Homo sapiens: one gene and its partners. The protein of the gene in region 4 purifies or fractionates together with the protein of the main gene of each other region. This does not show direct contact. Each region holds a gene or a part of one and is shown on either strand. Other genes may lie near its edges.

The links.
Region 1: the proteins of AIFM2 (region 4) and C2CD5 purify together in Homo sapiens (affinity purification with mass spectrometry; one large-scale study listed by BioGRID and IntAct). This does not show direct contact.
Region 2: the proteins of AIFM2 (region 4) and SESTD1 purify together in Homo sapiens (affinity purification with mass spectrometry; one large-scale study listed by BioGRID and IntAct). This does not show direct contact.
Region 3: the proteins of AIFM2 (region 4) and ECHDC1 purify together in Homo sapiens (affinity purification with mass spectrometry; one large-scale study listed by BioGRID and IntAct). This does not show direct contact.
Region 5: the proteins of AIFM2 (region 4) and NMT2 purify together in Homo sapiens (affinity purification with mass spectrometry; one large-scale study listed by BioGRID and IntAct). This does not show direct contact.

The regions. Positions count from the first base shown.
Region 1 is NC_000012.12:22,541,305-22,545,822, forward strand, and holds the start of C2CD5 (C2 domain-containing protein 5), read right to left. Parts: upstream 3,239-4,518; 5' UTR 3,016-3,238; intron 2,894-3,015; exon of another isoform or gene 2,876-2,893; 5' UTR 2,847-2,875; coding exon 2,757-2,846; intron 1-2,756. UniProt on the Homo sapiens protein: Required for insulin-stimulated glucose transport and glucose transporter SLC2A4/GLUT4 translocation from intracellular glucose storage vesicle (GSV) to the plasma membrane (PM) in adipocytes.
Region 2 is NC_000002.12:179,257,856-179,261,917, reverse strand, and holds part of SESTD1 (SEC14 domain and spectrin repeat-containing protein 1), read left to right. Parts: intron 1-4,062. UniProt on the Homo sapiens protein: May act as the primary docking protein directing membrane turnover and assembly of the transient receptor potential channels TRPC4 and TRPC5.
Region 3 is NC_000006.12:127,336,770-127,340,831, forward strand, and holds part of ECHDC1 (ethylmalonyl-CoA decarboxylase), read right to left. Parts: intron 2,120-4,062; exon of another isoform or gene 2,031-2,119; intron 1-2,030. UniProt on the Homo sapiens protein: Decarboxylates ethylmalonyl-CoA, a potentially toxic metabolite, to form butyryl-CoA, suggesting it might be involved in metabolite proofreading. Acts preferentially on (S)-ethylmalonyl-CoA but also has some activity on the (R)-isomer.
Region 4 is NC_000010.11:70,126,057-70,130,118, reverse strand, and holds part of AIFM2 (ferroptosis suppressor protein 1), read left to right. Parts: intron 1-4,062. UniProt on the Homo sapiens protein: A NAD(P)H-dependent oxidoreductase that acts as a key inhibitor of ferroptosis.
Region 5 is NC_000010.11:15,133,982-15,138,043, forward strand, and holds part of NMT2 (glycylpeptide N-tetradecanoyltransferase 2), read right to left. Parts: exon of another isoform or gene 1,438-4,062; coding exon 1,293-1,437; intron 1-1,292.

The DNA of each region.
Region 1 (4,518 bases), on a different chromosome or scaffold from region 4:
GATAACATTACCTGTTATTTGAACTATTATAGAATCTCCTAACTGCCTGATTTCTACTCTTTCCCCTTCAATCCATTCTCCATATAACAGTGCTCATCTTAACAAGGGCTTCTCAATGAATTTAGGGTAAAATTCAAACTCTTAATCATGGCCTTAGTCCTTGCAAGACTGGTTCTTTGATTAACTCTCCAACTTTATCTTATACTACTCTTCCCTTCACTGACTACGTGCCAGCCACACGCATTTTCCTTCACTTCTTAAAACACACCAAATCTCTACATGAGATCTCCGGGTTACCTTCTGTCCACCCACTCCCCTACACACACAAATATGCTCCCTCAGCAGCAGGCTCCTTCTCATCCAGCAGATCTTGGTTTTGACAAACACTTTTCTCAGGGGCCTCCCCTGATTACTCAACCTAAAGTAGGTGTTCCCTGTTGTTCTCTTTCTATTGTTCCCTTTCATGGCACCCATCCCAACTTGTAACTATATATTTAATAATTTATTTACCTTTTAAACATCTGTCTCTCCCACTAAAATATAAGCTGAATTAAGAGAAGGAACCAAGTCTGTCTTATTCACCATGTATATACATCGGCTAGACCAGTAACTAGCCCAGAGCCTGGCAAACGGCAGACACTCAATTTGTTCAAAGAAGGAAGTAATAAGTAACCCCTGAATCAGCCCCCTTCCTCACCAGCAAAATCCACCTAGTTATCAAGGCCTGACTATTTTAACCTAAGAAATGTCCCACAAATCTTTCTGTTCAAATCCATTCCTATTCCCATTCCCACATATTACCTGGATAATTTTACCACCTTCTTAACTGATCTCCCTGCCACACTTCCCATCTGTCTAGTCCATCAATAGCATCCCCATTCAGGCCATCCTATAAAGAAACAAACTAATACAAACATGATCTTATTTTATTTCTGCTTAAAAAACTCCCCTGGCCAGGCGTGGTGGCTCAGGCCCATAATCCCAGCACTTTGGGAGGCCGAAGCGGGAGAGGCAGGAGGATGGCTTGAGGCCAGGAGTTGGAGGCTGCAGTGACCTGCATTCAGCTTCCTTGTCGCTCCTTATAAATATTACAGAAAATGAGGTTTTATAGAAAATGGGGCTTTCCAGCCTCATCCCTAACAAGCTCCACTACCCACATATCTCATACCCTTTCCTCCAGACACGTACTAAACTAAGGCAGTTTCCTGAACATACTATATATCCCAGTCTATGCCTTTGCCTTTGATGTTCCCTTTGCCTGGTAAAATCCTGGGTGTCCTTCAAGGCCCACTTCAAATGTCACTTTCACAAGAAGCCTTTCTCAACCTTCAGAGACAGAATTCTTTCCATATTCTAATACAATACTCATCACTTTGGTGAGGCCGTATTAGCAGAGTGGTTAAGAGAACAAACTGTCAGGCTGTGGAGGTTTGCAAGCTATGTAACCTTAAGCAAATTATTTACCCTTCCTGGGCCTCAGTTACATCCACTGTAACATGGGACAATAACAATACTCCTATAGCAGGACTGTTGTGAAAACTAAGAATTTAAAAGTACTTAGTACAGATCTGGCAATTATTAAATTCAACACGTTACCTATTAGTTATTAAATAGGCTGTGTGGGTCAATGTCTGAACTACCGGAAAGCAAACACTATGTTTTAGTTATTTGTGGATTCCTATCACCTAACATCTGGCACAAGAGCACTCAAGAACTTTCTCAAATGAAGTGATTAAGAATCACCATGACAATGGGCAGGGGAGGCAGTGAACTGTAATTATTCGGTTAGAGAACATTTAGGAAACATCAGGAATATTGAGATGAAATCGAGCTATATATTATGATATATCTATCCATCAATTCTAAGCACTAATAGCCCAAATGATTGCTGCTCTAATGCTCTGGCTCATCACGCCAATTTTTATTACAATCTTTACTTGGCTTCTTTCAGACTCTGGGTTATTACCTTCCGGCCGTAGGCCTTTACTAATTTGCATGACTTTTAAACTAATCATTAGACTTAAAAAGCAATTTTGCAATTTAAGTCCATGGCAATTAAATGACTTCCTACCTCAAGGCGCTAAATTACCCTGAAACACCTCATCAGACCTACCAGCCTATACAAGAGCAGGAAGTGTTGCAGTTGTGTTTTAGAACGTGCATGGCAGATTCACAAAATGTTAGGCATGAGAGTGGATTTCCTCGCACTGTGGGACTCCAAGTGCCCATAAAGGGCTTCATGCACCTTCTTAAACATGATGTCCAGCACTCTGGCCACCCCTTCCAAGGGTGTGTGTGTGCCTGTGTGTGTGTGTGTTTCAGTGGCTGCGGGGCCACACCTTGGGATCTCCTGAGTGGCAGGTGGCCTGTTAATGAGTCCTGACATCAGAGTCATTCCGGCATTTGTGTGTGTGTGTGTGTATGTGTGTGAGTGTGTCGGTGGCTGCGCGGCCACGCCTTGGGATCTCCTGAGTGGCAGGTGGCCTGTTAATGAGTCCTGACATCAGGGTCACCCCCGCATGCACAACAGTACAAGCCTCCCCGCGCAGCGGACTGTGCCGCGGACGCCTGCAAGCCGTGCACCCATCGCACACACTGAGGTCTCGGCGGTCATCCCTCGTGGGAGAGCTGGACAACCACGGCCGAAGGGAGGGCAGTCGAGGGGGGAATAGGCTGAGGGGCTGGGGGCGAGGTGGGTAGATCCTTCACAGGGCTTGGCGCTCCCTGTGTTTTGAGGGGCAGGACCCTGCACCAACCTCCACGAAGGCATCAGTCAGGTCACTAGCACGGTCCATCACTGGCAAATGGCGCCCGGCCACGATTTTCACCTTCAGCTTCCCTGGCATGGTCTCGGTTTCGGCCTCTTCTTGGGCTCCTGCAGAAACAAACAAACGAGTCTGCGCCGAGCGCGGGGCCGGCGGGAGAGGGGCGGAGGCGCGCGGGGTAACTGACAGCGAAGGAGCGCGCGGGGGCGCGCGCGGGCGCCCGGCAGTCGCGCCACGGGTCGCCACTCACTGTCGCAGGAGGAAGGGTGCTGTCCCGCGCGGGTGCTGAGACCTCATTCCGGAGAGGCGGCGGGAGGAAGGGCTTTGATGGGTTCTTCCGTCCCGGCCCCACAAGGCTGGGACGAAAAGCAAAACCCAGTCAGCATCCCGTTGAGCCTCTGCCGCCCCTGCTTGTCTCTCCTCCCCCGCTCTCAAAAATGGCGGCTCTCGGGGCGCGGAAGAAAGCATCGATCGTTCGGCGCTCTGCCCACTTGGCGGGGCGAAACTAAACTCGCCGAGGAAAGATAAGGGGGCGGGGCTGACGTTGAGAAAGCTGGAGGGCAGGGAAATGGGCCGAGTCCTGCATCATCCACCGAGTGGGGGCTGTGGATAGGTGCGGCGCTGCTTCCCTGGAGGGAAACGCTCCATCTTGCGGGCCGAAGCGCGAGTGCTGCTCTGTGACAGCCTCCGGCCGCGGCCTTCCCAGCTGCTACCGCCGCTTTTCGGATGGGCTGTGATAGATGGAGTAGCAGCGAAGACTGCTAGAAGAGCGTTTTCAGTCGGCCTTTAGTGATTCGTAAAACCAAATTAGCTGGTTTCTACTTGGAAGGGGTACAGGTGCGTGTGGTGGTTCCAGTTTTCTGTGAAATAGAGTTAGATGGCCAGGCACAGTGGCTCACGTCTGTAATCCCAGCACTTTGGGTGGCCGAGGCGGGCGGATCACCTGAGGTCAGGAGTTCAAGACCAGCCTGGACAACATGGCGAAACCCCGTCTCTACTAAAAATACAAAAATTAGCTGGGCGTCGTGGCGAGCGCCTCTAATTCCAGCTACTCAGGAGGCTGAGGCAGGAAAATCGCTTGAACCTGCGAGGCGGAGGTTGCAGTGAGCCGAGATCACTCCTCTGTCTCCAAAAAAAGAAAAAAAAGAAAGAAAGAAATAGAGATACCAGGCACATCTCGAATAGTGAAATAAATATTTAGTGAAATATTTTATTCAGTCATAGGCACTTGTGTTGTGCACTGGGTCACAGATATTACTGTGGGCGGGGTGGGGGAGGTCACCTTGAAATCCAAAGTCTCCTCTTGAAAAAAAGTTTCTGCTGGTAGGTGTGGTGGCTCAGATTTGTAATCCCAGCACTGTGGGAGGCTGAGGTGGGAGGATCGATTGAGTCCAGGAGTTCGAGACCAGCCTCATGGAGACGAGGCAACACAGTAAGACCCCTTCTTTACAAGAAATGCAAAAATTAGCTGGGCCGGTGGCTCGTCTGTGGTCTCAGCTACCTAGGAAGCTGAGGTGGGAGAATCTGGGAGAATTGCTTGAGCCCAGGAGTTTGAGGCTGCAGTGAGCTGCCATCTCACCACTGCACCCCAACCTGGGCAACAGAGCAAAACTCTGTCTCTTAAAAAAAATTTTTTTTTAATTAAATGTCCTGCACTCTTAGATCATCTCAGTGTTCTTATTAAGCATCCACAAGCCTAAAGATAAGACCTACAGTAGTAGCAGAAGTTCAGGACTTCCTACCATGGAAAGTA
Region 2 (4,062 bases), on a different chromosome or scaffold from region 4:
TACAAGTTTTTGTATGGTATATATGCTTTCAATTTTCTTGGATGTATACCTAGATGTGTAATTGCTGGGTTATATGGTAATTCTGTTTACTTTCTGAGGAACTGCTTGACTGTTTTCCATAGCTGCTGCACTGTTTTACATTCCTTCTAGCAATGTAGGGTTCCATTTTCTAGGGTAACCCTTCTACATTGCTAGAAGGGTTACATTCCTTCTAGCAATGTAGGGTTATAGCAATGTAGCAATGAGGGTTCCATTTTCTCCACATCCTTGCCAACACTTGTTAATGTTTGTCTTTTTGATGATAGCCATCCTAGTGGCTGTGAAGTGATATCGCATTGTGATTTTCATTTGTATTTCATCTTATCATGTTTTTATTGGCCATTTGTATATAATTTTCTCATTTAATGTTTTAAATGATGCTGTAAGGTAGGTTTATTCCTATTTTACTGCCAGGAAACTAAAGTGCAAAGTTGTTTAATCATTTGCTTGTTTTTTTAACCTTACAGTTAATAAGAGGCAAGGTCTGAGTGTAAACTCAGGTCTTCTGACTCTACTTCCTGCACTCAATGAGGCATACAGAAATTAAATTGTGTTTGTGAATGTCTGGTTGATTAGTGACAAAGTGAGGGAAAAATAAAAAAAATCAAACCAAACAATAACAAACCATAAGGTGTTGTGGCAACACTGCCACATATTCATCAGATTTTATTACGCATTTTCAAATAAATTCCTTTTCTTCTGTCATAATAAGGTAGGTCTGCTTTCCACATTTCCAATGGGGAAACAGAGTCAGAGTGATTCAACCTAGTAACAGCTTCTTAATAGCATAGCCGATCCTAGAACCCACTGTTTCAGAATTTGAATAGTATGTATGTGTATATATATAGAGAGAGTAAAAGCTGAAAATCTCCCTTCACTTTTTGTCTTTTTCCCCTTCTTCACTCCTAAGACCACTTCCATCTTGGAGAAACTGCTGTTGACAGTTTGAGGTTTATATTTCCAAACCTGTATCTTTGCATTTATGTGTGTATTTATCTATAAATACACATTTCCATATTTTACCATACATACAGACATGTTTCTTTTCATAATGTTTTTTCTTTTACAAATGGGATTATACTACACATATTCCTTTGTTTTTCACTTAAATATGTTAAACTTTTCCATCTGTAATTACAAAGGATAAATCTAATATTATGTTTTCATTTAAGTTTGCTATCCATGCCTGGCTTCGGTGTCAAGATGAAGTCAGGATTAAGAATGATTAGGAAACTTTTCACTTTTTTCTGTGCTCTGGAACAGTTTAAAATATCTGCCCTTTAAACGTTTACTAGAAATCATCTGACAACTGTGGGGGCAGAGAGAGATCTGAGATGACCTTTCTAATTTTTTTTTTTCTTTTGAGACAGGGTCTCACTCTGTGGCCCAGGCTGAAGTGCAGTGGTGTGATCACACCTCACTGCAACCTCAACTGCCTGGGCTCAAGTCATTCACCCACCTCAGCCTCCCAGGTGGCTGAGAGTACAGGCATGTGCCACCATGCCCAGCTAATTTTTGCATTTTTTGTAGAGATGAAGTTTCTCAATGTTGCCAAGGCTGGTCTCAAACTCCTGAGCTCAAGCAATCTGCCTACGTTGGCCTTCTTAACATGAGCCATTGCACCTGGCCCGTTTTCTTATTTGTCAAATGACAATAACTCCTACCTCATAAGAGTCTTGAAATATTAAATGATATGTGAGCTAATATATGAAAAGGCTCAGTAGTTGCATCTAACAAAAATGAAAAAAATGTAATGAACTGTAACATGCTATACAAATGTAAATTTGTTACTACAGTTATTATAATTATGTTTTAACCTAATAGGAACAAATTTTTAAGTAGATAGGATGGTGGAGCTAGGGACAGTTTCCACTAATAAATCACAAGTATCTATAAAAATTCACAGGCCATTTGGGATTTGATTCTGGTAGACAATGGTATCTAAATACACTCTTTAAGAAGGATGGTAGGTAAAATCATTGACTAAACAGATCTGGATGAATCTTGTGTTGTCACTTGTTAGCCTTGTGACTGTGGACAAGTTAATTTCTTAGTAACATGAGATAACACTTATAGGGCAGTTATGAAGAAAGACATTAGTTTCTAGCATGTAATAGATGTTCAAAATAGTCAATTTTTTTTTTCTTTGCATGTAGTGAATACCCAACAGTGACAAACCTGAGATGTTGAGTTCTATTAATTTAAGGCTGCTTGGTGAGGTGGAAAGAACATTAAGCCCTAAGTCAGAAGTTTTGTTCTGTCCTATGTTTATTAGCCATTGGCTGTGGATGAGTCGCCTAAGTGCTTAGATCCTTCTGTTTTCCTTACCTATAAAAAAGCTAGAGAACTAAGGCTGGGTGCGGTGGCTCACACCTGTAATCCCAGCACTTTGAGAGGCTGAGGCAGGTGGATCACGAGGTCAGGAGTTCAAGACCAGCCTGGCCAAGATGGTGAAACCCCGTCTCTACTAAAAATACAAAAATTAGTCGGGTGTCGTGGGGGCACCTGTAATCCCAGCTACTCAGGAGGCTGAGGCAGAGAATTGCTTGAACCCGGGAGGTGGAGGTTGCAGTGAGCCGAGATCGCGCCACTGCACTCCAGCCTGGGCGACAGAGTGAGACTCTGTCTCAAAAACAAACAAACAAAAAGCTAGAGAACTAACACTAGGCACTTTACAACCTTATCTCATTTAATCTTTCCAATAATCCTATCAGATAGAGATGATTTCCATTTCCCTTTCTAATAGATAAAGAAACAAAGGTGCAGGAATTGGATTTTCCAAGGTCTACTTGGTGGACTCCCCCAGTCCTGGGAATATTCTTTGGCTCATTACAAGTATTCACTCCTGGGATGATAGGGCATGCCCCTATGTACAGGGAATACCAAGGGGGGAACCTACTATAAACTGAAATACTAAGTGTATGAATGAACTAAGCCAGTGTTGGATGAGACTACTTATTTATTAATGACTTCCATTAATAAAATACAAATAGAGGATTGTTAATGTGTCCCAATGCCAGTGCTTAAGAGTAGTAATTTAAGATGATACTTCATTTTCCCATAATCACCTTATCTAAATAATTTATTACCTACTCCTAATTTCATTTTCAGTTTGACCAGGTAAAGCACAGAAGTAAATTGTAAGTTAGTGGTCAGAGCTGGTTTGATAGTGGTGTGTGTGTGTGTGCATGCATGCACGTGCGTGTGCATGTGTGTGTGAGAGCTGAGAAGTACAGTTCTTCAGCAGCTTGGCATATGCAGAAACTGCACATTCTTGGAAAGAAGTAATCTGCGTTATAATTTAATTGCCTTCTAGTAGATTTGCAGAATCATTTAGAAAATGAACCTGCCTTTGTCAATTGGTTTGTAAAGACCTATTGATTATATTCTTGAAAGATAGTAATATTGTCTTTCCTTTAGTGGGTATTGCCAGAGCTTTTGCTTATGAGTTTCATTTTATTTGATCAGGTTCAGTGATATTGATTTGGTATCCTTGCATGCTTTGTGCTAGGGATGTATGAAACAAAATGCTTTTGAGAGGTCATGAATTGTGATTCAGTAATAGTTTAGAAAGTTTAGGAATTCTATCTATTGGGGCTTCAGTTAGCATGTTTTTGTAGTAGAAGTGGGAATTACTGAGTTTAGGTTAGATAATTTTTATCAGAAAAGTCTTGAATTGCACTGTGTAAATTCTCACTGACGTTGCATCTTTTCTGCAGAATACAAAATACTTTGGAGCTATATATAAGAATTAGAAAACATGGTTCTGTTTTCAAGGAGTTTATAATCTGATTAGGGAGGCAATGAAGGAAGAAACTGAGTAAAAGAATAAAGAGCTCTTAAAGCTTGTGTCTTGTCTTTGTAAAATCAATTTTGCCACATTGGGCTTTGGTAAGGTGTCATAGGTCTCTCCTGAGGGACAATATGAGAAACATCTAACCCTTTGAAGACTGGTGGTTATGTGTCTCCTATATTTTGATCATTCTATGGGGTTCTTTTTGCTATACGAAATTACTGTTTGGT
Region 3 (4,062 bases), on a different chromosome or scaffold from region 4:
ATGTTACCAATTACAAAGTGTGAAGTGGTTATGAAAAAAACACCAAGGATTTTAGACACTTTCTAAGTTATCACTCAAATGTAAATATCAAGTTGCCTCAAAATCTCTTAGCTAGTGGAAGCAACTTAAACTAAAAATTTCAGACTTTATTGAGAAATGCCAAGCAATGGGGCTTGAAACAAATTGGTTAACCACACTGAGGACTAAGCTCTGATTTTTTAATCTTGCCCAAATTCCCACCTAAGGGGTCTGGGGAGTCATGCCCTACAAACCATAAATTCTCATCAGATGGGTTTTATTTAACCCTGTATATTGTGACTTACTTTTCAATCTGACTCTGGCATAACATTCTAAGACAAGAAGAAAATATTTAATTCCTAAATACATTTCCTTGCCATACCCTGAAATTGCCCTGCGAAGTTTCTTGTGGGAAAAATCCACATTCTACAGAGCCTCCCCTTCCCGCTTTGTTTTCCTTCCTTTCTTTCCAGATCCAGGAGATAATCAACTAAGAGCCAAGCACCCTTCTAGGTCTGATAAGAAACATTTTACAACCTGCTCTCTCTGAAGTCTGCTGAGAGATTCCTCTGCACAAAAAAACTTGGTCTCCACAATCCTTTATCTTTAACCTGAACATTCCTTTCTATGGATCCCAGGTCTTTAGACAAACTCAACCAAATGTCAACCAGAAAGTTTAAATTTACCTATACCCTGGAAGCACCCCCGCTTTAAGTTGTCCCTCCTTTCTGAACCAAACCAATGTATTTCTTAAATGTATTTGATTGATGTTTCATGCCTTCCTAAAATATGTAAAACCAAGTTGTACCCCAGCCACCTTGGGCACATGTTCTCAGGACCTGAGGGCTGTGTCACAGGCCATGGTCACTCATATTTGGCTCAGAATAAATCTCTTAAAATATTTTACAGAGTTTGACTGTTCGCATCAACAACACCTATATTCTCATGACAGGATGTATTTATGTTTGTAATCTCCATTCATAATCATAACCCTCCCATACTCAACCATTATTCTTTCTGTTTCACCTCCCCTTTCACTACCCTTAGACCGAAGTTCAGTGGTCAAAGTCTATGAGAAAAATAGGAAATATACCAAAATATATCATTCAAAATGAATTCTGAAGCTTTCTTTACTTTTTTAAAGGCAAATTTTTAAAAACATAGTAACTGGATTAGCAATTAAGACAAATATTTTCAAACAGGATGGTATTCTTCACTGGATTATTTAAAGTAGGTAAGTAGATATTTAGCTGCATTCTCAGAAATAAAAACAGTTATTAGTTTCTTGGCATATGGACCATTAAATTTACATTTATATGTAGACTTTTCTGGCCAAGAAATGGGATCCAAGTGTATAGACATATATGCATATGTTAAGAGCATTTGGTAAGAGGTAGTTCTGTAGCAATTCAATGGCTATTTACTGAATTCCTATTAGTGATCACCCCATTGTTAGCGATTTCAGAGAGAAAGCATCTTTAAAAGTTTTCAGTTTTGTCAGAGAAACAAAATATGCACACATAAAGCAAAAATAACTCAAATATCTAATTGAAAATAGAGCAAAGTATCTCCTTTTATTGAGCTCTACTAGAGAGTTCCATTAAATTTAATGTATAATCTTAACTTCATAAAAGGATATCTTTTTTTTTTCCACCAGTAAACCTTTATCATGTAGTCTAAGGATTTTCTTTAGGTATAAATGAATCCAATAACATTAAATCAGTGCATGGAATTATGATGCTTTATTGCCCTTCTTTCTAATTTTTAAAATTCTAAGCAGAAGCACAACCAAAATCAAGCAACATACCAGCTCTGCTAGGGAGTAAAGTAAATATCAAATGTATATACTCACATACATATATATAAAACCAGAATTATCCTACATATGTGTAACCAGAATTTTTATGGTTATGAAACAGTGCAATACTAGTGTTTCACAGCTATATATTACTTCTATAACAAATGACTTTTGTTCACTGAGTTGAAATTTATGTTACATTGCATTTGGCCAGAAAGAAAAGAAACACAGATGTGATGAATGAAGAAAAATACCAGTTGAGTCACCTAACCAGTACTGAAAAAGTTAAGTTTCAAAATACGGGTATGTTCTATTTCTTAACCTAGATAATGCATCCACAGTTATTTCTTTTGTTGTTGTTCTTTAAATTCATCTTATACATTTTACTCTCTAGGTATGTGTGCTACATTTACTTCTCAGGAAACTTTTTCTTTTTAAATAGAAGAGTATCATTCCAAATATTGACAGATGTCCTGTTCAGGAATTCCTTCCAATCTCCTAAACTGCCAGTTGCAAAACTAGTTTCTTCAGACCTCTACTTTACATATTGCATCAGTAGCCACTAACAATAATTACAGCCTATAGATATCTGAAATTTCTTTGTTGACAAGTCTGGCAGCTAAGCAAAGGTCCTTATTAAAGGTAATGATATTTCTTAAAAAATCATGCACAACCAGAAAACATAACAGAAAGGTACATACGAGATAAGCTGTAGCATTTTAGGGGTGATCAGGACAGGGACTGCATCTTACAGCTCTTAACGCAGAATTTTACATTAAATTTTTGTGGAACTAAATGACACATAATGTGGTTATTACTATATAGGTATTATGGTACCTAGTCATCATTTTCTAAACTAAAGATAATATCTATATTTACAAAATAAGAAAAAAAGAACTATTTCAGGCCAGGTACGGTGGCTTATGCCTGTAATCCCAGCACTCTAGGAGACCAAAGTGGGCAGATCGCCTGAGGTCAGGAGTTTGAGACCAGCCTGGCCAACATGGCGAAACCCCATCTCTACTAAAAATACAAAAATCAGCCAGGTGTAGTGGCACACACCTCTAATCCTAGTTACTCAGGAGGCTGAGGCAGGAGAATAACTTGAACCCAGGAAACGGAAATTGCAGTGAGCCAAGATCACACCACTGCACTCCAGCCATGGTGACAGAGCGAGAGACTCTGTCTCAAAAAAAAAAAAAAAGAAAGAAAGAAAAAGAAAAAAGAACTATTTCACTGTTGGGGTTTTTAAAAAATGCAAACCCAGGGGGTGTGGCTACAAGTGAGGGTATCATAGTCAGCCAAATAAATAAATAATCTTTCACTGGCCTCTGGTCAGCTTGCCAAAGAGCCACACCTTCTCCATCACTCCTAGCTGAGGAATCTCTGCTCCTCTTCAGAAAGGGAAGGCAAGAGCTCCTTGTCTGGTTTTATTCATATTTACAAAATGGGTTTATATGCAACATAATCTCTATTGGATCACTAATAAAAATATTGACACTTTTTAAGAAATGAGGTTAATAGACAATACAAAGTCATTCTACATATCTACATATAATACATATCGTATAAGGGTCTAGTTAGTAGTATTCTTCCTACTTTAACTATTTGAACAGATTTTCTCACAAGACTGTTAGGTGTGAGTTAAGGATAACCTGATGCATTTTCTATAACTTTCTCAGAATGAGAGGCAATTTACCCAGTAGGTATTGAGATAAGACTTGACTCACTGTGTCCTTCCCTTCTTCATTCTATTTACTGAGGATGAAGGGAACTTGCTTTCTCCCTCTCTCCCTTTCTCCCTCCTCTCTCCTCTCTGCAACCTAGGGCTGCCTTCAATTTGGGAAGTGTCCCATTCTAAGAAGGCCAAATAGCCTAGAGCTCAGGGTTCCTTAGGAATGCTTCTAGTCTAGGGAAAATAAGCTGTCAAGGTCATGTACCAGTTCAGCTAATAAACCTGGGAGGCCTACATATTCAGAGCCAAACATAGCATGCCTAGGGTCTTGCTTTTGCCTAGAATATGCCGTTAATCAGGTATGAAGATACAACCCAATGAAGCAGATACATGTGGGGCAGAGGCCCCAATTTCCACCTTGATAACTTTAGAATAAAAGTGCTAAAGAAACTTGGTAAGGACTTAGATAGTTGCTTTAAAAGTTTTTTTTTTTTTTGCCTGTCTGCCATAATCCTCTGTTTAGAGGAAGAAACAAGGAGTTAATCTAGAAAATAAGGAGGAGGGACTTATA
Region 4 (4,062 bases):
CTCGACCTCCTAGGCTCAAGCGATCCTCCCACCTCAGCCTCCTGATATCAGGGACCACAGGCATGTGCCACCATGCCTGGCTAATTTTTGTATTTTTTGTAGAGATGGGGTTTCACCATATTGCCCAGGCTGGTCTGGAACTCCGGAGCTCAAGCAATCTGCCTGCATTGGCCTCCCAAAGTGTTGGGATTAGAGGTGTGAGTCAGCCTACATCTCATTTTTTTTTTTTAAAAGATGGGGTCTCATCTAGGCTGGAGTGCAGTGGTGCAATCATAGCTCACTGTGAACTTACATCTTAAGTGGTAAATTGTATATGTGAATTCTATTTTGATTAAAAAATTAGATGGTAAGCGGTCTGTCCTATTATTAAAGACATTATTTCTGCAAAAATGACATATGCTTGTTTGAAAAAAATTCAAACAATACAAAAGCTTAAGGAAGAAAATGAAAACATTATCTATGACCACTATTAGCACTTTGGTTCAGACAGCAGGTTTGATGTGTTGAGAATTGAACTTGGGCAAGTTGTTGAACTTTTTTCCAAAATAAGGAGAAAAAACTCATACCTTAAATCGAAGATATGGGCAAAAGTGCAACAGATGCTAACTGCTGTAATCATTACCTGTATATGTGTATACATACCGAGGTGGATGTGTCTTATTGGCCATAAATGGGATTAGATCTTTCATGTGGTTCTGTGGCCTGACTTTTTGGGACTGGGCAAACTAATCTGCAACATATATTTTATATATATATATATAAAACGTGGCTGCTGTGTATTCATTGCTACTCTGTGCCAGGCACCATGCTAAAATGCTTTACGTAAATGATCTCATTGAATCTTTTCTACAGCTCGAAATCACAGTGGCTTACCCCTGTAATTCCAGTGCTTCGGGAGGCTAAGGCAGGAGGATCCCTTGAGGGGCTAGGAGTTCAAGATCAGCCTAGGCAACATAGTGAGACCCTCATCTCTACAAAAAAAAAAAAAAAAATTAGCCAGCTCAGGAGTTCAAGGTTATAATGAGTTATGATCATGCCACTGCATTCTGGCCTGGGTGATAGAGCAAGACCCTGTCCCTAAGAAAATTAAAAATAAGTAAATAAATAAATAAATATTGCCTGACTTTTTCTTTTCTTTTTTTTACTTTTGAGACAGGGTCTCACATTGTTGCCCAGGCCGAAGTGCAGTGGTATGAAGCACTGATCCATGCTACAACTTGGATGAACCTTGAAAACATGTTTTGTGTAAATCAGATTGTGTATGTGTGTCTTTGTGTGTGTGTGTTGTGGGAGGGAGCAAAGGTAAAGTTACTCACTGCAGCCTCAAACTCCTGGGCTCAAGCAGTCCTCCTGCCTTTGCCTCCTGAAGTGCTAGGATTATAGGCAGGAGCCACCACACCCAGCCCTTGCCTGACTTTTTCATGGACAGACTTTTTGTATAAAAACGTCATTCACAGGCTGGGCACAGTGGCTCGCACCTATAATCCCAGCACTTTGGGAGGTCGAGGCAGGCCGATCACTTGAGGTCAGGAGTTCGAGACCAGCCTGGCCGACACGGCGAAACCCTGACTCTACTAAAAATACAAAAAACAATTAGCCGGGCATGATGGCACATGCCTGTAGTTCCAGCTACCTGGGAGGCTGAGGCAGGAGAATTGCTTGAACTCAGGAGGCAGATGTTGCAGTCAGTGAGCTGAAATTGAGCCACTGTACTCCAGCCTGTGCAATAGAGTGAGACTCCATCTCAAAAACAAAACAAAACATCACTCACCCTTTAAAAACAACTGGCTACACAGTACTGCATTGTATGGGTTTATAATATTTTATCCTGTAGCCTCTCATTGGTGGCAGTTTCCATTGATTGATGGAGTGTCACACAGGTGGAGGTTTGCACAGCACTACTGCTATGTTAGAACATACAACTGGGCATCCACTAATTCCATACGTGCATTTTCATCTCCTACAGGGTGTGTGGCTGGAAATGCAGCTCCATGGCTTAAGCCCTTGCTTTAGGTGTCTGGCCAAGTAGATCATGGCCAAGCAGAGGGGAGTTCACTGTTTTCTGGGGCCAGGCAAGAACCGACACTGGCAGAGCCAAAGAGAGTCGGCATGTCCAAGAGTATTGGGCAAGGGGCTGCCAAAGAGGCAGGGTGAAATCTGCTGGAGAGTCACTGGCCTCCCTATTCCACAAGTAAGCGTGGCAGGGGTCAGTAGAGGAGAGAGAAGAGAGAGAGAGCAGATTGCAGGAGAGGCCTCAGGCAGCCTGAAGAGGAAAAGTGCCTCCCCTCCCTGGCCCTGCTCTGGTCTGGGTGTCCCCTCAGGCCCCAGGCCCTTCACAGGGAACCCCAGATAAGCAATTTGCCTTCCTTGGGTGAGGCAAGAGTTTGCCCTTTCGGGGAAGCAGGTTGATGATACTAGGGGCCTGGGGGTCAAGGGCTTGGCTCCTTTGGTCAACTCATTGCCCCTGAGGTCCACTCTGGGGTCACTAGACTTTCTTTCCCTGGAGGAAACCCCATGAAGGGCCCGGAGCAGGCTTGTATGTCCACCTGATTGTCAAAGCTGCCCTGGCATGGCAGGCTGTCTGTCTGTCGGCCCCTGTCACCTGTCCTCTAAGCCTCTCCACCTTCTGCCACAGGTGCCCTGAACTCTACCTGCCTCCTCCCTTCCTGCCACTGGGCCTCTGGCCCAAGTTGTTTCCTCTGCTAGGAAGGCCCCCTGATCTCAGCTCTTTTTCAGGGCTCTAGGCTGTCCTTTTTGAGTGTCCCTGGGTGCTCCAGTGTGACCTGACGCACAGTGGACTCCCCTGTCCCTATCCCCGGCCAGCTGCGTAGCCCCTCTCAGGGGCCATGCCCAGCTAACTTGGAAGTGGGGCTTTCTGGGTGTTTTCTTGACCTCATCCCTGGCTGACAGCCCCAAGGGTAAGACCCAGCACAGAGGGTTGCACGCTGCCAGGGGCTGGTGAAACACACGCCACCCACGGCCTGCCTCATCACTGCCTACATTCTCAGGCCCTGCGCAGCTCCTGGTGTGCACTGCTACCTCTGGCTGGGCCTGTGGGCCCTCCTGGGTCCTGGTCCCTAGGAGACATTCCCTTCTGGCCCAGTTGGCAGATTCAGCCTGAGGTACGCTTGGGATTAGCTCTAGACAACCCTTCTGAGGGCTTAGAGGAGCCAGGGTGGCCCTGCCTGCCGGGGGGTTGTCTTGGGTCCTAATCTCTACGAGGGCTCAGCCTCCTCATCTGTGAAATGGGTATGTTCAAGCCTCAATGCTTTGGGGACCATTTGACCCACGAGAAACAACTTTAAATTCCCTCCAATCCATTGTGTCAGTGCCCTCCGTCCGCTCTACTGTCCGCCCCCAGGGGAGAAGTTAGGCAGTGGGCATTTGAACACCAATGGGAACAGTGCCCGGAGTTCTAACCAAAAGCTGCCCCATAAGTGTGGGATGATTTGGGGACCGTCTTGGGGAACCACCACCATGTCTTGGAAACCAGTGTGTACGAGGACAGCTCAGGATATTATAGCTGGTTGGGCCTTATAGTCCCCTCCCATTATAGGGGGTAAATTGAGGCCTAGAGAGGGAAGGGGTTGTGCCCCAGACCCGCAAAGATGATCAGGGCAGTGCAGTGGCCTTCCAGCGGCCTGAGGGTCCCAGATGAGCTGGAACACACTTCCTTATGAGGCTGTTCAGTGGCTTGATGTCTATCCTTCAAGGTTGACCTCAGAGTCTACTTCCTCCTTCGCTGACACCCGCTCCAGTCCCCCTTCCTGAAGCCCACAGCAGCTGTTGAGCCTCTGGGGCTGCTTTCTGTATAGTGTGAGTTTTGTTTCTTTTTCTCAGCATCTCCCCCCAGCAGCCTGGCTTATTTCTGCCTCTCTTTAGGGCTCAGCACAGGCCAGGAGGAGGGTTGATTGCTTGTCACCTCTCAGGGTCTCAGCTGCAGTCAAGAGTGCCCCTCAATGGGCTGTGCGGCTCCTCCCACACCAGCAGCCCTCTGCCTGCCTGAGGCCCACACTGCAAGCATCCTAATTTGGGGTTCTGCTGGGCTGGAGGCAAGGCCTC
Region 5 (4,062 bases), about 55 Mb from region 4:
AATGCAGCCTTATCTTACACACTGTCATAAGCAATGTAGGTTTCATTCAACAGCCTTGGGAGGTGTGTTCTTTTTACTGCATTTCCACAAACTGGGAGAGGAAAGGGCTGCGGTGACCTCTGCCCCTCCCAGCAAAACCTAAAAATAATTTCAAGGCTGGTTACTTCTCCCCATCTAAACTGCTAGCAGCGTAGTTCAGGCCATCACAATTTCTAGTGATTTCCACCAAGAAGAGTTTTCCAAGTCCTTCTCTGCAGAGCTTCCCAACATGGTAGGACTAAAACCCAGGCTCTTCCCCATGGCTGCTGCCTGCCTCGGCCCCTCTCCACACCCTCCCTGCCCCCTGCTCCCAGTGCTCTGGCCATGATGACCGGGGCAGGCCTCAGCTCAGGGCCTTCCTGGTGCCTTCCTTAGGCTTGAGGCCCTCTGGTCCTCAAGGGACGGGCCCCTTGGAATTCCCGACAGAAGCTTACGCATCACACGTCACTTTCTCCCAGCATCTGTTGCTTAACTAAAGCCTTTCTCTACCTCAGTGTGGCCGCTCCTCCCCAGCCTGGCCACCTTTTGTCCTACTTTTCCACCACTGTTTCCAGGTGTGTGCCCTGGACTATGCCTGGCATTTAATAACAGACACTCAACAGACACCTGCTCCATGAGGGACCTTCAGGGCCTGGTCCTTCCATCACAGAACCTTATATACATTTTTAATACTCTAATGGGCTAGGTGCGGTGGCTCACACCTGTAACCCAGCACTTTGGGAGGCCAAGGCAGGTGGATCACTTGAGCCCAGGAGTTCGAGACCAGCCCAAGCAACATACTGAAACAGCGTCTTTACAAAAAAATACAAAAATTAGCCAGGTGTGGTGGTGTGCACTTGTGGTCCCAGATACATGGGAGGCTGACATGGGAGGATGGATCACTTGAGCCCAGGAGGTGGAGGCTGCAGTGAGCTATGATCATGCCACTGCACTCCAGCCTGGGTGATAGAGTGAGACCCTATCTCAAAAATAATAATAATACTAGTAATGTTTCAAGTGTGGGGAAATTGGATGTTTTTATTGGGATAGAAATTGGACTAAAATAATGGTTATCAAAAGCCAATGTCACTATCTAATATTTATATTTTCAGAAGAAAAATATTAGTCTTGCATAGATTTCCAATCTGTGGTATGAAATAAATGATACATGTGAAGTTAACACTCTTTGTGTTTTGTTGTTGTTGTTGTTGTTGTTGTTGTTGTTCATCCAGCTTTGTTTGTGGGGAAAAAAAGAGAAAAGCAGAAAAACTTACCTAGTTTTGGTACCGGTTGTGTGTCCCAAAACTGGTATCTGTGCTTTGCAGCCTCATCAATGTTCCTGGCTGGGCCCTGGCATGCGGATAGCAGCTCCATTGCTCTCTGGATATCCTGCAACTTCTGCATTGGAACACTGGGATTCTACGACAGCAAAGACAGACACAGAATATGAGAGAGCGGCTGCTGATGTTAAACTTGAGCAGACGCACGTGCATCTGCCTCAGAGACTACAATACCTAAACACTAACAATCCTCCTCCAAGCCCAGTCAAGGCCATGGGCTTGTGTGTTACACATGAAAATAGAAGCAAACCCTCTGTTAAAGGTAACAACAGTTGTCTAGTTTTATTGGGGCTCTGGCAGTTTGGGGAATCTAAATTGAAGCACGCTTTGCTTCAGTTTCCCATCCATCTACAAATGGTCCCCGGCATTACTCCTCTGGGGGAGACGTGCAGTGCATGCATTACTGTCATCCAACAGCCAGGCAGCCACGAGCCTTGGGTGGGGGGCACTGTCAGAGTAAATGCTCTGCAGGAGCAACGAGGGGATGAAGGAAAGAACTTCTAGAATGGAAACACAGCAGAGAAGGGAAGGGAAGGGGAGGGGAGGGAAAGAAGAGAGAGAGAGAAAACAAAGAAAGAGAAAGAGAGAGAGAAAGAAAGAGAGAGGATCGGCAGTGGTGTCTCACGCCTATAATCCCAGCACTTTGGGAGGCCGAGGTGGGCAGATCACGTGAGGTCAGGAGTTAAGAGACCAGCCTGGCCAACACGGTGAAACCTTGTCTTTACAACAATACAAAAATTAGCCAGGCATGATGGCAGGTAATCCCAGCTACTCGGGAGGCTGAGGAGGGAGAATCGCTTGAACCTGGGAGGTGGAGGTTGCAGTGAGCTGAGATCGCGCCATTGCACTCCAGCCTGGGTGACAAGAGCAAGACTCTGTCAGGAAAGGGAAAGGGAAAGGGAAAGGAAGGGAAGGGAAGGGAAAGGGAAGGGAAGGGAAGGGAAAGGAGGGAGAGAGAGAGAAGGAGAGAGAAAGAGAAAGGGAGAGAGACAGAGAGAAAGAAAAGAAAAGAAAAAAGGAGGGAGGGAGCGAGGGAGGAAGGAAGGAAGGAAGGTAGGGGGGAGAGACAGAGAGGGAGAGGGAGGAAGGAGGAAGGAGAGGGACAGGGGGAGGAGGGAGGGAGAGAGGGAGGAAAGGAGGAAGGAAGGACAGATGGAAGGAAGGAAGGAAGGAAGGGAAATCTGAACTCAGTGCTGAACTGGGATGAAAATGATCAAGAAAAGAAATCTCTAACCATGCCCCTTCCTCCCGGCCACACCCTGCCCTTCTCCTGACCCTCCTGATCCTCCTGATCCTCTAGAGACAAACTCTCCCACCAGAAGGACAAGCAATTTCCTCTGTACTTCAGATCCTGGGCAACCATAGCCTGTCGTTCCCAGCCCAAGTGTTGGAAACTGGACTCCTTTTTAGGTAAAACATTACGTTTGAATTCTAAGGTTCCTTTCTCAAAGCCAATATTCCCGCCAGCTCTTGGAGATTCCCCAGTTCTTTTTTTTTTTTTTTTAATTCCTCAAATAACGTAATAATACATGGAACATGAGACTACTTGAAATGAGAAGACAGCGCAGAGGACTGAATATGGAAATCAATGACTTTTTTCAATATGTAAAATTACTGAGACATTGTAGAACTTTGATACCATGCAAAGAATATTCTTCGCTGTAATTCAGAAAGTGGTTAGAAGTTTCAAGAGCCCTTCGGTTTTGCTGTATGTCAACACAGGGTGGACACCATTGAAAGGTACAATCGACCCTTAGAAGTTTATAAACAGCAACTTTGGACTTCTGTTCCACTTGGAATCTGAAATCTGTGGTGTGGAGCAATAATTTTAACTTGGGAAGCTTACTCATCGTACACAGCACAGAACAGGGTTTGTTTCATACAAACACTGTCAAGAACCCTAAGGAAACGAAGTTCTGAAGTCCAGCTGGAGGCAGGTGAAAGTCTTTTTGTCTCTGCTTGGAAGTCTCACAGCACAATCCAAGATGGCCACAGTTTTTGTAAGCTGTTTATCTTACATTTGTTTAACATCAAAATCATAAAGGTCCTATCTTAATGACACATACAAATTTAACAAAATACTTTTCCGGTTCTCATTATTATATCTTTGGATGACTTCTTTTCCTTGGGTGTCTTTTAAGTCCCCAACATTAAAAGGAGCAAATTTCTAGCAAAATGAAATTCATGTGTATCTGAACTCCAACAACACCATCTATTAGAAGACCTTACAATTTAAATAGGAATTGAGATCACAGCATATTTCAACTAATAATGCTTAACTGTGCATCAGTTTAGCTTAAAATGGCAAAGTAGAGCCCAGTCTTATAAAAATAGAACTACAATGACTATAATGAATTTGTCATGGTACTTTTTCTTTCTTGATTTAATTTTTTGTTCCTTGATTTCTTTCCTGGTTTCTGAGTTAAATCTTCTAACAGTAATATATCAAACTCAAACTATTTTGCAACAGACATGAATCAGCATCTTTGTTCCACATGACCCAATGACCAAAATGACCAACTCCATGAAGAAGACTTCAGAGTGATTTATTCCCTACCTAATTAGCTCATGGGTTGACCAGCACACCTCTACATGAAATGTCCCTTTGCGAAACATTGATATCCCAATGTTCACTATTTAAATGCTTTCTTTCTTCTTCTTCTTCTTTTTTTTTTTTTTTTTTCATTTTGAGGCAGAGTCTCAC